2 separate regions of the Homo sapiens genome follow, and region 2 is linked to region 1. Evidence: fine-mapped expression QTL. A gene starts in region 1. The other region holds a variant in brackets. All regions are shown on one strand. Distances are from middle to middle.

What was found.
Region 2: its variant is fine-mapped to the expression of TMEM106A in monocytes after LPS (Quach 2016, PIP 0.95).

What each region holds. Positions count from the first base shown.
Region 1 is chr17:43,209,034-43,214,404 of GRCh38, forward strand. TMEM106A (transmembrane protein 106A) reads left to right here and starts at 2,842. Exons shown (of 9, transcript NM_145041.4): 1 at 2,842-2,889; 2 at 3,194-3,361; 3 at 3,988-4,219; 4 at 4,795-4,858. The coding sequence starts at 4,009. It overlaps NBR1 (NBR1 autophagy cargo receptor), which reads left to right. Exons shown (of 21, transcript NM_005899.5): 21 at 868-2,655. The coding sequence ends at 1,041.
Region 2 is chr17:43,017,743-43,023,081 of GRCh38, forward strand. It overlaps VAT1 (vesicle amine transport 1), which reads right to left and starts at 4,643. Exons shown (of 6, transcript NM_006373.4): 1 at 4,194-4,643; 2 at 850-1,057; 3 at 294-464; 4 at 99-188. The coding sequence starts at 4,580. The variant G/T (reference allele first, on the strand shown) is at 2,722.

The sequences.
Region 1 (5,371 bases):
CCACAGGGCTTGAATGAATGAATGTTAACTTCCTCTTACCTATTCTTGTTTTTTTTTTTTTGAGATGGAGTCTCGCTCTGTCACCCAGGCTGGAGTGCAATGGCGCGATCTCGGCTCACTGCAAGCTCCACCTCCTGGGTTCACGCCGTTGTCCTGCCTCAGCCTCCCGAGTAGCTGGGACTACAGGCGCCTGCCACCACGCCTGGCTAATTTTTTGTATTTTTAGTAGAGATGGGGTTTCACTGTGTTAGCCAGGATGGTCTCAATCTCCTGACCTCATGATCCGCCCGCCTCAGCCTCCCAAAGTGCTGGGATTACAGGTGTGAGCCACCGCACCCAGCCCCTCTTACCTATTCTTTTGGAGGAGAAAAAATCAAGAAGCCTTCCCAGGTTGTAATTTCCCAAGCTGTTTTTTTTGTCCAGCTCCTCTGCATATCTGACAAAATTTCCCATAGCATCTTTCAGTAACACTTTTATCTTGCTCATACTTCCCCCATCATCACAATTACACTTATGTTCACAGGGTCTCTGGGGCTTGCTGTCATTCCTTCATCTGGCCAAAAAATGCTTCTTCCTGAAAGCCCCGAGTGAAGCATTCTCCTGGTTCTAAGTACAGTTCATTAGCTCCCCGGTTTCCCTTTTCTCCTCCTTCAAGTACACAGATAACTAATCTAAAATAGGGCCTTCCCAGTCCGAACCGTTGGTATCAAGTACACAGGAGTGCCATAGCCTTGAATCTAATTACCTAGTACTTTGAATAAATCTGGAAAGACTAGTATGCTTGCAAGATGATACAAATGTATAAAATAAACATTTAAATTATACAGAATTTTTTTTTTTTTTTTTGCTTTGCTTGTCTCTACACAGCCAATAATTTCTGAAGATCAGACAGCAGCCCTGATGGCCCATCTCTTTGAAATGGGATTCTGTGACAGGCAGCTGAACCTACGGCTGCTGAAGAAACACAATTACAATATCCTGCAGGTTGTGACAGAACTTCTTCAGTTAAACAACAACGACTGGTACAGCCAACGCTATTGAGGAGTGACCTTGTATTAAATAACTGCCTGCTGCTCAGAGATGATCTTTATTCTGTCATTGGGGTATGGGATAGAAGCCCTTGCTTATTTTTAATCTGATGAATCTGTATAGAGCCCATCGTTGAGTTACCAAGACAATACCTGCTACAGTATTTTGGGGAGCAAACTAAAGACCAGAACTTAAATTTTCACTTTAGACATTGGATGAATAGTATGAAGACAGTTTTTCAGTTGATTTGGATAAAACTATTTTAGTGCATTGACAAGTGTAACTTCAACTTCATATAGAACCATTTTTCTTTCTGCTTTTATTGAAACTGAGTATTTTTCTTTGGCTAATGTGGATTTTTTATGGGGATATCTGTTAATTTTCAGGTTTTGAAAGACATTAACCTCGGAAGTTGTTTTTAAGAATTATTCTCATAATTCTTATTCTCATAATTTCTGTAATCCACCTCAAGCTTCATAGTTATTTGGCATTGAAATAACACCCAGAGCATGATAGAAATGTTGTTACTCTTCCTCTCTCAAGGAGAAAGTAATTTTCCTGCAATACTTAATAATTGGCACCGTTGCTTTCTAAAGACTCCATGGTGCATTCAAGAGTATCCAACTTCAAGGGAATCTCCGCATTTCAATGAAAGGAGGAAGAGTGTGCTGATAAACCTACCAGCACCTATTGAGCAATGTCTATTATAGTAATTTTGCATACATTTTTATTTAAGGGAAAAAATATAGGTATTGTGAAATATTTTGCTAATCTTATAGAAAAGGAAAAAATCCCGTTATTTAAAGGGAAAAGTAAATTTAACAGTTGCCTTTTTTCTTAATGTCAGGGCAGATCTTATTTTACAGTACAGTGGGGGAAATAGAAACATGTGAAAGGCAAAAGGCAGGCTCCTAAATTAATGTCAGTGAAGTTCAGGGTGGGCAAATGAGTGTGTGTGAGGTATAGGAAATGCTGATGACTTCTTTAATGCTTGAAGTCCGTTCACAGGTATCTAGCCCTAGAATGCCTAGAACAGGAAGAGGCAGCTGGTGTTCTGCAAAACTTGGACAGGGGCAAAGTTGCTGAAAAAGTTTTGGTTTAACCCGAAGATAAGTGGAAAAGAGCTTGTCCATGAACCCAGGTTCTCACTCTGTTTACAGAAGTGTGTTGAGTACAGTTGGTGAAGGAAGAGGTAACAAAAAATGCTAAATATTTTATCCATGAAAATGACTTCCAGAAAAGGAAGAATATGAACCCCAGACCGAAGGGGAAAAGATAGTTAATAGTATTATCTAACCTGGTTGGTATTTGTAATGAATGGTGATTTTAATTAGTCATTAGCCATAATGATGTTTATTTACAGTATAACTCCTGAATGCTACTTAAATAAACCAGGATTCAAACTGCAAGCCAGCCAGGCCGTTCATTATTTAAAACGTTTTAATCGGGGCTTCCGGGTAGAAGGTGGAGCGGCAGGGTGTAATTGGGTTGATGGGTGGGACCTGTCTTGACCATCGGAGTTTTATAATCGAGGGCCAGGAGGGCCCGGGTTGCTCTCCTGGTTATGTATGTACTTGTACATAACCACCTAAAGAATGGTGAAATAAATGTTCTTGGAAATTCCTACCCGGACTGGCTAGTCCTTGCGGAAGCAGCGTCCGGGCCCTCGGGTAACGTTTGAAGAGCTGGCAGCGTCTCAGGCTGCTGCGTGGCGAAGGGGCGGACCGGGGGACGGGGGGGTGGGCCCTTAGGGGCTGGGGCGGGACTTCCCTGGGCACTGAGTCAAAGCTTGAGGGGAGTGTTCGCTCCCGCATTTTCGATTCCACTCTCTTCCGTTTCTGTCGCTGCAGTCGTCCGCGGGTAAGGCCCTCCCTAGACCCTTTATACCTACTTTACCTTTCGGAGGTCAAGACACCTCCTGTTGCCGCCTCCTCGCCCAACACACAGGCGCCCCCCGCACGGGTACCAAGCTTGACTAACGGCCTCTAGGGGTGTGTGGTGGGACTTGAAATCCTCCCTTAATGAAGTCACACCTTCTCCGTCCGCTTCCACCCGGTCGGCCCATGGCAGAGCCCCCATGTAGCCCAGGAATCGGCTTGGCCCTTCGGGGAGGTCAGCGTCCTTACTATCCCCACTCTCCAGTGCGGCACATTCGTTCCCCTAGGACTCCGGCCGGTTGCCGGCCCCAGGCGGTGCTTCTCCCCACCACCGCCCAGCTCAGCTCAGCCCAGCCCAGCCCACTCTGCCCTTAGAGGCCCTTCTCCCCAAAGACGCACTCCAGAAGTCTCGCCCTCGTGCGGCTGAGGAGCCTGGGATCCCAGACCTGAACAAGGTGAGCATCCCTATATTTTAGCCCAGAAAGATCTGTGTGGCTCACTTGCCGGCCTCGTTCTGTCACACAGAGTCCAGATTTAGCCTTGAGTTTTCCTAGTGAAAGACAGACCCTGGTATCACTATGACCCTCCTCAGGCTTTCTTACCCCGCCTCAGAAAGCAGTGAGGTGTCTGCTTTCTCCCAGGGCTTCTTTAGATAGGGGTCTTAACCACACCTGTGACCAGTCTGGCCTCCTCTCTCCTTGATTCAAAGAATCTCTTTTCTGCCCTATCCAACTTCCTTCCCTTAAACTGAATGACAGCTCAGCAACTTTTCCAGAGAAAAATTAAATGCTCTGACAATCACTTATGGAAGTTCCTTAAAGTGAAGTAACTTCTGCTTTTCTTTTGTTTTCCCTTTTGTAGGCAGATTGGTCTCTTTTAAAATAATGAAAGGAGTCGAAATGCATTGAGACTTCTGAGAGTCCCATGTGACCACCCAGTTTTTCACATCCTATCTTCCTTAGGCTTGAGCTTGCTTAAACTGTGGTGAAGCTCCTTGCCAGTCTTGAGAACTTCAAACCAAAATTACATCTGGCGTCAGTGCTAACAAGCTTAGCACTGAACTTTGGTCTTTTCTCATTAGTGAAACCCCCGCCCCTGAAGAATGGGTAAGACGTTTTCCCAGCTGGGCTCTTGGCGGGAGGATGAGAACAAGTCAATCCTGTCCTCCAAACCAGCCATTGGCAGCAAGGCTGTCAACTACTCCAGCACCGGTAGCAGCAAGTCTTTTTGTTCCTGTGTGCCTTGTGAAGGAACTGCTGATGCCAGCTTCGTGACTTGTCCCACCTGCCAGGGCAGTGGCAAGATTCCCCAAGGTGAGTGGCCCAAGGCTCTGGAAATAGCCTGGAATCCAGGGAAAGTTCTTAGCCTGTTGGCCTGGGGCAGCCCCTCTGAGTCTCCTTGGATGGGGTTAGATCTGCTCCCAGCTCTTGACCTCCCAGTCTCAGGCTGGCCAGGGAGATACTTAACTATCCTTGGGTTCCCTGCAAAAACCTGCCCTCCTTCCCTGGTTGTATTCTCCAGCCCCTTGTGGGAAAGAAGGATTCTAGCCACTGTGCTTCTGAGCAACACTGTGTGTCCTAGGATTCATTCAGTTCAGGAAGTTACAAATGAACTTTCCAAAGATGCTGGGCATCTCTGATTTGCTGGTGACTTTCAGAGATTCTTCATACCTATTAGTGGAAATCTCACTTCCATTCTAGAGATGGCAAAGCTGAGCTGCCAACTTTGGTAGCAGAGTCCAGTGCTTCCAGTCCTGCTCTGGGGCAGATGTGGCATGTTTCTAACATTGCTCTATGGTGTGGGTGGAGGCGTGCTTCTGGGAAGCTGGCACAGTAAATATTTGTCACAGTTGCATCTTGGCCCTCCCTCTCACCTTCTCTCTCTCTAGAGCTGGAGAAGCAGTTGGTGGCTCTCATTCCCTATGGGGACCAGAGGCTGAAGCCCAAGCACACGTAAGCCCCCCTTCCTCCCCTAGCTTCACAAGCCATTGCCCCTGGGGGCTGCTCCCTTTGTCTCCCCTGTTTTGATCTCCCTTAATTTCTTCCTATTAGTTCTTCCATAGAAAGCCTGAGCCTCAGAGGTACCAGCTCCTTACGTCCAAGGATTTTTTCCTGATTTAGAAGCTCCTGGACCGGGTGTGGTGGCTCATGCCTGTAATCCCAGCACTTTGGGAGGCCAAGGCAGGCAGATTACTTGAGCTCAGGAGTTCAAGACCAGCCTGGGCAACATGGTGAAACCCCATCTCTATCAAAAAAAAAAAAAAAAAGAAAAAAAAAAAGAAAAGAAAGAAAGAAAGAAAAAAGCAGCAGCTGTGGGCACAGCAGATGTCACTTGAGGCCACCTGGTGGGCTTCCTTAAGCATCACTGCTTCCAGAAAGCATGGCCCCCTCTCCAAGACAGGAAGGATCTGGTAGCTCTGCAAGTCCTCCCAGGAAGGAGGGAACAAGCATGTGGCCCTGGCTGCA
Region 2 (5,339 bases), 190 kb before region 1:
CCCCTTCTTCATTCAAAAGCCCTGGCCTCTATATCCCACCCCTTAGACCCTCCCTCCTGCCCTCACATGCTCTCTCCATCCCTGGCCCACTAACTCACCATAGGTGACGACTTTGCCCATGGGTTTCAGGAGGTTGTAGCCCTTGGCAGTATCTGACCCACCCAGAGGGTCCATGACAATGTCCACTCCTGTCATAGAGTAGGGGAACCCAAGAACAACATTAGGATCCACAGATCTGGAGCTCCCCTCCCTGTCCTGTGCCTCCCTACCCCCTCCCATATTATGCCCCCCACCTTTAGGGGAAATCTTCTTGATCTCATCCACGTAGTCAGTCGTGTGATAGTCGATGGGATGTGTGACCCCATTCTCCTTCAGTGCCTCGTGCTTGCTGGCCGAGGCCGTTCCGAACACTGTCACATTCTCCACTGTACGGCACAGCTGCACGGCAGCCATACCCACACCCCCTGCAGCAAGACACCCATAAGCAGGGGATATGGAGTTGCCCTGGCCACCAACCACTCCATTCTAGCCTCCCAGGGACTCAGCCTGTCACCTTCATTTTGCCTACGCTCATTTTAGGGCCGTGTCTAATTTCCATGACTGAGAAGTGGTGGGGAAGGTAGCTAGAGAGGTGGGGGTGTGGGGTGAGGGCACGTTGCTAAGGATAGCACACCAGACTAGACCTGGTGCCTGAATGTTACCACGGCAACTACACAGCAGAGGCCTCTGGGAGCCACAGGCCAAGGCAGCCTGGTGTTGCCATGACAACAACCCAGACAGGCTGCAGGGAAGGGGCCTGGAAGGAAATCTGGGTGGGGTAAGGGGTGATAAAGTGAGGGGACCTGTCACCTGCAGCCATGTGTACCAAGACGCTGTGGCCAGGCTGTAGGTTGCCGAAGTCAAAGAGGACCATGTAGGCTGTAATGTAATTGACGAGCAAGGCAGCAGCTTCCTCAAAGGTCATGGCCTCAGGAATCAGGAAGGTCTGGACCGAGGGCACAGTCACCTCTTCCTGCCACATCCCTGACCGGTTCAACACCATCACCCGGTCTCCTGCCTTGAAGAACAGAAGAGTATCATTCAGTCACTCATTCATTCACCCACAGGCTATTTACTGATTTCCCCCTAGGTACAAGGCTACCTTCTTCCAAATGAAGTAGCAGGAGAAGCAGCAATAGTCATGGTAATAATAATAATAATAACATCATCATCAACAACAATAACAACTCACCTTTACTGAGTGCTGACTGAGGGCCGAGCCCGATTTCAAGTGCTTTATATATAATGCTTAATTAACCCTTACATCAGTTCTTTGAGGCAGATACTATCCTTATCATCTTCTTACAGATCTTACATGTCACTATTGTGTAAGATCCCTGAATGCAAGAAGCTTACAGTTAGGGCAGCATGAAGTATTGTGGAAAAGATCAAACTGCTGTGGTTACAAAAGCGGTCTCAACTGTTTACTGACTGTGTGACTTCGGATGCATAAAAATTACTTAATCTTTTTGAGCTCCACTTTTCCAGCTCCAGTTTTCTTATCTGTCAATTAGGGCAGTTTTTCCAAATGGAAAAAAAAAATTTTAGCACAATGTCTGGCACATAATAAGCACTTAATAATGTTAGCTAACAATAATAATAATAATAATATAATAGCAGCAAGGAAGTCACACAACCAAAAGAAGACGGCACTGTGTGGTCAGGGCCATACCAAAGTGCAGGCAAAGTTCTCTGAGCGCTTACAGCAGGGTGTGGTCACCTCGGGAGAAGTGTGTTTGAGCCAGCACTGGGAGCCCAGAAAACATCTTCACTCAGAGATGGTGCAGGAGGGGCAACAGACAAGAAGGGCTACAGAGGCCTACGCAGCAGTAAAAGGCTTCCCCCCCACCCCCACGAGAGCCTCTGTGCAGGAGGGAAAGGGGACAAAGATAACAGAACCTTTCTCTCCAGCTTAGCAAGTGGGGTCAAGGGAAGGGCAGGGAAAAGGAGGGAGCGTCAGGAGAAAAGACTTCTCTGCGCTCTCTGAAGAGCATGAAGAGGGAGGTGTGGGTGCTGTTCTGGGACAATCTGGGTCTGTCTTGATCCCTGCCAGGAATGATGGGAATTCTGTATATTAACAAGAGTTAGGGTCCATGGGGAAGGGGGATGGGACTGCCACTTACGCCCTTTTTCATGTCCTCAAGCCCCCACACTCCACTGAATACGAGAACTGAGGGCATGCTGGGGTCTTTCCTTCCAAGTTCTGGCCTGAGATGAGGTCTGGAGAACAAGAACGGAAGCCCTCCACCCAGGGACTCAGGACTAGCAGATACAGAACAACCCAGGAGAGCTGCGAGGAGTGCATTGGTCATTTAGGGTCATGGCCAGTCCCAGATTTGACCCAGAACAAGTCTCACTTACCCTGGCTCATGCTAACCCTCAGGCCATCCAAATCAGGGCCATGACCCCTCCCCAACCCAGACACCAGGAAGGAGGAGGAGGGAGAGAGAGGGAAGGGCCCTCCCCGCAGAATCCAGGCTCTTACATCAGATTCTTGCCCTGGACAGGATATCCTGTATTTACCAGGCGGAAAGTGTATGGAGGGGAGGTGAGGTGGGTGGCCTTCAGCAGTAACATGAACTACAACTACCTCCCGAAAATATTCCTCTTAGACGCCTGCTCAAGAGTGGGATCATTTAGAAGTCAGTTTGAGGGTGGGGCCAGAGCTGAATTCAGAGGAAA[G/T]CCTTAAGGAGAAGCTGTTTGCATACAGGATGAATCCAACAAACCTGGCTCCAGAATTGGGCTGGCAGGTCTGCAAGAGGCTGCATCTGTGGGGCCTCTCATTGAGGGGTCTGATTTAAAAAGGAAACTCCTGGCCAAGCGCAGTGGCTTATGTCTGTAACCCCAGCACTTAGGGAGGCCGAGGTGGGCAGATCACCTGAGGTCGGGAGTTCGAGACCAGACTGACCGACATGGAGAAACCCATCTCTACTAAAATACAAAATTAGCCAGGCATGGTGGCGCATGCCTGTAATCCCAGCTACTCGAGAGGCTGAGGCAGGAGAATCGCTTGAACCCGGGAGGCAGAGGTTGCGGTGAGCCGAGATCGCGCCATTGCACTCCAGCCTGGGCAACAAGAGCGAAACTCCGTCTAAAAAAAAAAAAAAAAAAAAAGAAAAAGAAAAAAAAAAGAAACCTCTAAACAAATGGCGTGCTGAGGCCTCATCCCAGGTCTCTCAAAAAGCTGATCATTTTGAGCTCTCTGGTGTCCAGGGTTGTGGCCAAGATTAATGATAAATGAGAAGGAGAAACAGGCCTGCAGACTTGGCCAACCAGTTCAAGGCGCCGCACCTCTCCGTTCCAGTCCAAACCCCTGGCACTGGGGTTTCTGAAGTGGGGGTCCTCTGCAGGAGGAAGGCAGAGGTGGGTCCCCCCTTCCACTCCCCGCCCCAGGCATTCCCAAGGGCAGCCCCGGGTCGTGGCCCGAAGGCTGAGGGCTGAGTCACAGGAGGAGGAGATACTGCAGTCACGGGAGACACAGAGCCCAAGACAAAGATCGGATGACCCAATCCCGCCTCCCCCACCCCAAAATCAGATCGGCGGTGTAAGGCTGGTGGCGGTGGGGTAGCAAAGGCTCTCTCTCCTCCGTGATGGGCGTGTCTCGTCTCTTTGGCCTTGCTTTGGGAGGGGCCGCCTCACACCCCCACAGACCACGGGGCTGCATGTGACCAGGACTCTGGCACGGCCGCTGTGCCCCCGCCCAACCCCGACGACATAGCCCCTCAAGCTCCCTCGGGGAAAGGGGGCACTAACCGTCACTCATAGTCACAGACCACAATTACCCAGAGAGTGTTTGGTGGGTAGGGGTACAGGTGTGGTTTTAATGGGGGGGGGGGGGGGGGGTGGGGACGGTAGTGTGGTTGTGCGCATGCGCATGGGCACCTTATTGTTTTCCCCCCCACCAGCACAGCTTCTGGGCGGCGGCCACAACTAAAAATGGTTGGGGAAGGGGCGATAATTTCGTCTCCCCTCCCCACATAAATGCCGCTCTCCAGGAGCCCCCAAACACAAGTTCCTTGGCTACGCTTTCCACGCTCGTGCACCCAGGTCCGCGCCAGTTTCTCCCGCCCTGCCACACCCCCGGCGCTCGCCCACTCGTGCCCCACTGCCCAGTGGCCTGCGCAGCCCTGCCCTGCCCTACGCAACCCGCTCACCTTGCGGTCGCTGACTCCCTCGCCCACTGCGATCACAACACCCGCGCCCTCCATGCCCGGAGTGACAGGCAGAGGCGGGAGACGGTCGTACAGCCCCTGCCTAGCCATGAGGTCTGCGAAGTTGAGCCCGCAGGCCCGCAGACGCAGCGTCAGCTGGCCGGGCCCAGGGGCCGGGGGCGCTGCCGGCCGGCTCTGCAGCTTCACCTTGTCGTAGCCTCCAAAGCCGGTGAGCACTAGGCAGCGCAGCAGTGGCGGCGAGGCGGCGGCGGCGGCGGCCCCTTCGGAGGCCGCGGGATGCTGGGGGTCGCTCGCTGCCTCGGTTTTCGGAGGCGGCGAAGAGGCGTCTTCCCCGGTCGCTGCCTCGGCTACCTCTCTCTCGTCGGACATGGCTGGGACTCCCGACGAGAGCGCACAGCTGGATGGAGAGTGCACAGCTGGGGAAGGCGGAACGCGTCGGGAAGAGCCGCGGCTGCGGGATCCAGCGGGAGGGGCGGGGCGCCGGGCGAGGCGGGGCCTCGCGCTCAGCCTTAAAGGGCCAGGGCCATAGTGGCGCAAGCTGGGAGAGCACGAAAAGGGGCACCAGGAACGTCTGTGCTCTTGGGATCAAGCCGACTGTGATTTATTTATTCATAGTAAACCTTATTCAAATTAAAAACTATTTTAAGGGATAGGCCTGGCGCGGTGGCTCACGCCTGTAATCCCAGCACTTTGGGAGGCCGAGGCTGGTGGATCATTTGAGGTCAGGAGTTCAAGACCAGCCTGGCCAACATGGTGAAACCCCCGTCTTTACTAAAAATAAAAAAGTTAGCCGGGCGGTAGTGGCGCGCGCCTGTAATCTCAGCTACTTGGGAGGCTGAGGCAGAGGAATCGCTTGAGCCTGGGAGGCGGAGGTGAGCCGAGATCGCGCCACTACACTCCAGTCTGGGCAACAGAGTGAGACCCTGTTAAAAAAAAAAAAAAAAAGGGCCGGGCGGCGTGGCTCACGCCTGTAATCCCAACACTTTGGGAGGCCGAGGCGGGTGGGTGGATCACCTGAGGTCAGGAATTCGAGACCAGCCTGACCAGTATGGTGAAACCCCAGCTCTACTAAAACTACAAAAATTAGCCAGGCATGGTGGCAGGTGCCTATAGTCCCAGCTACTAGGG